Linked DNA regions of Homo sapiens: region 2 is linked to region 1. A link means that fine-mapping ties the variant in region 1 to the expression of a gene that starts in the linked region. Tissue or cell type: whole blood. Region 1 holds a variant in brackets; the other region holds the start of a gene. All regions are shown on one strand. Distances are from middle to middle.

Region 1 (2,754 bases):
TAGAGGTTAAGAGGGGACAAGAGCAAAGGGTCAGCAGTCTAGGGGTGAGATGGAGTCAAAAGGACGGCAGGTCAGCTGGAATGATGAGAACAGCAGTGGAGAGCCTTTAAAAGTGCCTTGGACTGGACCGATTACCTTCTAAATGCCGGCGCCCGGAAAAATCACTAACACCCTTTGGACTTACGTATTTCCATCTTTGTAAAATGGGAACCTACCTCGCAAGGGATGTTGCAACAATCGAAGAAAACTATGCACAATGCTTGACATCCAGTGGGTCCTCAGTAAATAGCCTAAGAAGGAAGCAAGGTTATGGTTACTTCTGGAAGAGGTGGCTTGGGGGCTGCGACAGGTGCAGCGATTGCCTGATGATAACATCTAGAAAAGCCCTTGCTGGGCAGAGGGGCAGCCGACGACCCCCGCCACTCAGCGAGTCTCCAGGTTTCCCGGAAACGCTAGCTCCAGTGACTTCTCAGATGCCCCTATGGGACCCCACCCAGGGCTGCCGCCGCCACCACCTACTGCAGCCGAAGCGGATGCACCTCGCGACTTTCCCCGCAGCCGCTGCCGGGGCCACAGCGAGGTCATGACGCCCGTGACGCATACGCAGCCAGCACGCACGCGCGCGGCGTGGCCCGCCCCCCCCTCCCACCCCGGAGGCGGGGCCGTGAGTCCCGGGCTCCGCCCCGGAGCGTCGGGCCCCTCCCCGGGCCCCGCCTCCAGCTCGCCTAGGACCGCTTGGAGCCGGCAGCTCGCCTGCCAAACCCGGCTGGGAACGCCTGGCAGCTTTTAGGAGGGGGCGGGCCCGGGGGTGGTGGCCCCAGGAGCGGTTGCCGCGGGGACCGGGCAGTGACGCGGCCCAAGGGCGGAAGTGAGAAAGTTGTCTGCGTCTCGAGGCGAGTTGGCGGAGCTGTGCGCGCGGCGGGGCGATGGGGGGCTCGGGCAGTCGCCTGTCCAAGGAGCTGCTGGCCGAGTACCAGGTGCGCGGGACGCCTGGCCCTGGGGAGCTCGCGTGCGGGCCTCTTCTCGGGAGCAGGGTCCGGGAGCTGGCTGCGGGGCGGCCGCGGCCTCCCAGCGGTCCGCTAATCCCCGCTCTGGCTTTGCCTTCCAGGACTTGACGTTCCTGACGAAGCAGGAGATCCTCCTGTAAGTGCTGCCTTGAACCCTGCCTCCGACCCCGGGATCCTCTAGAGACAGCTTCGGGGGCGCTGTCCCGAGGGAGGGGCGGGGGCTGGCCTGAGGTCTGCAGAGGAGCGGGAGCTGGAGGCCGGGAGACCTAGCCC[G/T]GGCTGCGCCCTCCTCCCGGCACGCCCTCCCCGCCCTCGCCTGAGGCCCCAGCGTGGCACCGCGGAGCCACCTTACAGCCTCCAGGAAAAGTTAGGCGCTCTTTGACCCTGGGCTCCACTAGCTTCAGCACTGCCGAACTTCCTGCCCCAGTCCGGCAGGGGCCGACCTTGCCCAGTGGCTAAACCACAGAAGCCTTGGGGAGCCCGGCTCCTTCTCCCAACTTTACCTGAATAATACAGTAACCGTTATCGCTTTCTGAGCACTCACCATGTGCCAGGGACTGTGCTAAATGGTTGCCTGCGTTACCTAATTTAATCTTTAGGAGAGAGGTACTGGACAATGAAACAGGTTCAGAAAGGTTTGGTAACTGCTTAAGACAACACTCTGAGTAAGTAGATTTGAACTTGGGCTGGAAGCCCTTTTGCCGGATTTATGCAGGCCAGGTTCCTGTGGCAAAGATAAGCTCATGGGAAGGAGGTGGAGGCCGAGGAGGACAGTTCAGTGTGGTTGCTAAAAAGGAGGCTTTGAGGGTAAGAGATCCCTGGAGTGAAGGTGAGAATGAGATTTTTGGTTTTGCTCTTTTCTCCGTTTTTTTTTTTTTGAGACAGCGTCTCGCTCTGTCGCCCAGGCTGGAGTGCTGGGGCACGATCTTGGCTCACTGCAGGCTCTGCCTCCGGGTTCAAGTGATTCTCCTGCCTCCGGGTTCAAGTGATTCTCCTGCCTCAGCCTCCTGAGTAGCTGGGATTATAGGCACCCGCCACCATGCCCGGCTAATTTTTGTATTTTTAGTAGAGAAGGGGTTCACCATGTTGCTCAGACTGGTCTCAGACGCCTGACCTCCAAAGCTCCGCCCGCCTTGGCCTCCCAAAGTGCTGGGATTACAGGTGTGAGCCACCGTGCCTGGCCAATTCTTTAGGGCCAACTTCTGGCTCCTTTCCCAACTTCTTCATCCCTTGGGGATCTCTAGAATCAGTGCCAAGCACATAGTAAATGCTCAGTAAATACTCATTGCAAGAATAGACTCCTAGGCTGTACTGCCTTGTGACATGTCCTTTTGCTTACCGTTGCCTGATGACTCGGAAGTTCTGTGTACGTGGTTTTAGCTCCTCACCTGGTTGACAATGAGCAGCAGGCAAGGAGTGGGAATGAACACACAGGGAGACCGATCGCTGAGAACACCGACAGTTCCCCTCTCTCTACCAGAGCCCACAGGCGGTTTTGTGAGCTGCTTCCCCAGGAGCAGCGGAGCGTGGAGTCGTCACTTCGGGCACAAGTGCCCTTCGAGCAGATTCTCAGCCTTCCAGAGCTCAAGGTGCAAGCGCTCCCCTCCTTTGACACCTCTCCCACCACTCCCTCCCTGCTAGACCCCCTAACTCCATCTGCCACTAGCTTTGGGATCATGGGGTCACTGGTCCCCACTCTGGTCATTTTTCTGCTTAGTTCTGATTTTCTAGGGGCAAGGACTTTACCAAA
Region 2 (2,608 bases), 32 kb before region 1:
ACTATTTAAAAATTTCAGTAAAAATGAACCAACCACGTCATAACGTTAAAAACTATTAAAACCAGGCGGGGCGCAGTGGCTCATGCCTGTAATCCCAGCACTCTGAGAGGCCGAGGCGGGAGAATCACTTGAGGTCTGGAGTTCGAGGCGATAGCGAAACCCCGTCTCTTTAAAAAACAAAACAAAACACTATTAAATCTAGATAATGACAGGGTTAGGGAAGTTCGTTATATTACTCTACTTTTCTGATAATAAATTTCAACGACAAAAAGTAAACGAAAATATAAAAGCAGTATCAAAAAAGCCAAACCCGTTTCTGGGCTCCAGCATCCTTCACTTCTCATCACAGCGGATACAAACAAGGTATCCTGAGTCTCACCGTATCTGCTCCATGGCTTCCCACGTCAGGGTCCTGGGCGGGGCACCAGGCGCCTCCATTTGCCTCCGAATTTTCTGGAATCGGATTGCTTGTTTCTGTCGTTTCAGGGTGCTGGGGGAAGAGAACCAATGGCAGAAGCCATGCGTGGAAGCAGAATGGATGTTTGAAGAGCCTCAGGCTAAATCATGGAGCGCCCAGCCCTCTTCTCTTTGATCGCAAGGGCAACCGGGCCATGTTGCCGGCTTAGAGCTGCTCCGTACACCCAGAAAGCTAACACCTAGAACAATAACTGCCTGTAAGCATGCCGAACTCTCTAAACTGATGATGAAATACGTCACTAATGAAGGGACCAGTGGTCCCAGGGGAGCTGAACACCTGACGCTGCGCCCCTAACAACGGGTAAGAAGAAACAAGGGCCGCTGCGCAAGCAGCGGCAGGACACCCGGCGCCAAGGGGGCGCGGCCTGGAGCGCCGGGGCACGAGGCCCTGCTTCAAGCTGAGGGCCCGGGGAGAAGCCGGTACCTCTCCACCTCCTGCAGCTCCCGTTCCTCCGGCTCCCAGTCGGAATCGGGGTCCGGCTCCCGGCCAATAGGGCCTGGGCCCGCCACCCCCCGGGTCGCGAACCCACAGCGAGTGACGGCGGCGCAAACGCGCCCGCCCAGCAAGAGACTCAGGGTAACCGCCATGTCGACGCAAACCAGCCTTCAGCAGTCGGCTACGAAACAGCAGCGGAAGTAGCCGGGTAAGACCGGAAGTGGAAGGGGCGGGCCGGAGGCTGGGTAGTAGCAAGTTATTTCCCGCTTCACTTGGTGGGGGTAAGATCTGGGCTCACGCTGCTCAGTGGCCCACCCTTTCTGCCTGTAACTGTGGAGAGGGCTTCCCTGAAACGTGAGGGCCGAAATGAGGTACAGGACGCTCCTGGAAAACTGCATAAACTTTAATTAAAGTACGGATTCCGTTTCCAAGAGCCGTCCCTCCGCCCCAGCGGCTGCCCAGGCCTGCCTGTCTCCGCCACCTCGGTGGGCAGGGCTTCCGCTCGGCAGTCTTCTGACGGCGACAGCCCAGTGCCTTGGGCACTCGGCTTCTCTGGGAAAGGGGCTCATTGTCTCCTGGATGGCCTCCAGCCCCGGGCCGCACCTAGGGTTCAGACCCATCACCTAGCGATAAACCCAGGCTAAGGCTTGATGAGCAGAAATGAGTACATGGCTGGCCTTGGCGCCTCTTCATCTTCTAGTCTTTACCGATCCCCAATTAATCTTAGGGTATTGAGGAATTCTTGGTGTCTTTGTATTTTGCCTTATACAAATGGGGTTCCTGGGCAGGGCTTTTCAAAGTGGAACTTGGTGGCAGTCATTCATTTAGCAAAGATTTAATGCCCTTTGGAAACCTGGGGAGGTTATCCAGGAGAGGTAGAGTGCTTCCCTCCTGCTTTTACCTGAACTGATTGATGTTGAGGAGTGCTCTGGAACGCTGCAGCATGGGTGCAGACGCAGGGCAGAGGGGAACCTTGGCTGCTCTGTGTTCAGAGTTTACCATGGAGGGCAAGGTGCATTCAGTCCATGAGTCAGATGCCACTCTTTCCGGTTGCAGAAAATAGCCCTGCTTTGGGGTTAAAGTGGGTGGCACTGATCCTGCCAGGACTCGGTTTATGGCTTCTAGCCTTCTGCTGGCTTGTCCTTCTGCAGTGGAAACATGGATGTCCCTGAGTTGGTATTCACAGAAGAGATTTGTTCACCTCTTTCCCAACTGTGGCCCAATTACCAACACAGAGGAAGGGCATCTCATGCTTCCCTCCACTGTCTTTCCCACACTGTATTGTAATTGGTATGGTATGTCTTTTTGTCCATGTTCCTATTACCTCTTGAGTGCTGGGACTGTATTTCTGCCATTTCTATCACCAGGGTCTAGTGTACAGAAAGGATTAAATAGGCCTGGTGCGGTGGCTTACACCTGTAATCCTAGCACTTTGGGAGACTGATTCAGGTGGATCAGGAGTTCAAGACCAGCCTGGGCTACGTGGCAAAAACAAAATATACAAAAGTTAGCCGAGCATGGTGGTGTGTGCCTATAGTCCCAGCTACTCAGGAGGCTGAGTCAGGAGAATTACTTGAGCCCGTGAGTGGAGTTTGCAGTGAAGTGAGATCAAGCCATTGTACTTCAGCCTTGGCGACAGAGCGTGACCTTGTCTCAAAAAAAAAGGAGTAAATAAATGGGTACCCTAACTTCCCC

The links. PIP is the estimated chance that this variant, and not a neighbour inherited with it, causes the effect.
Region 2: it holds the start of NGRN, and the variant in region 1 is fine-mapped to the expression of NGRN in whole blood (INTERVAL, PIP 0.97).

Annotation. Positions count from the first base shown.
Region 1 is chr15:90,232,058-90,234,811 of GRCh38, reverse strand. CIB1 (calcium and integrin binding 1) reads left to right here and starts at 871. Exons shown (of 7, transcript NM_006384.4): 1 at 871-977; 2 at 1,109-1,143; 3 at 2,485-2,593. The coding sequence starts at 927. It overlaps GDPGP1 (GDP-D-glucose phosphorylase 1), which reads right to left and starts at 603. Exons shown (of 4, transcript NM_001013657.3): 1 at 520-603; 2 at 216-290. RefSeq lists silencers at 469-908, 929-1,378. The variant G/T (reference allele first, on the strand shown) is at 1,281.
Region 2 is chr15:90,264,170-90,266,777 of GRCh38, reverse strand. NGRN (neugrin, neurite outgrowth associated) reads right to left here and starts at 1,106. Exons shown (of 3, transcript NM_001033088.3): 1 at 902-1,106; 2 at 380-490. The coding sequence starts at 1,065. TTLL13 (tubulin tyrosine ligase like 13) reads right to left here. Exons shown (of 15, transcript NM_001396017.1): 15 at 1,301-2,058. The coding sequence ends at 1,811. It also overlaps a transcript of CIB1 not described here. RefSeq lists enhancers at 152-1,122, 916-1,145, 1,506-1,635, 1,123-2,094.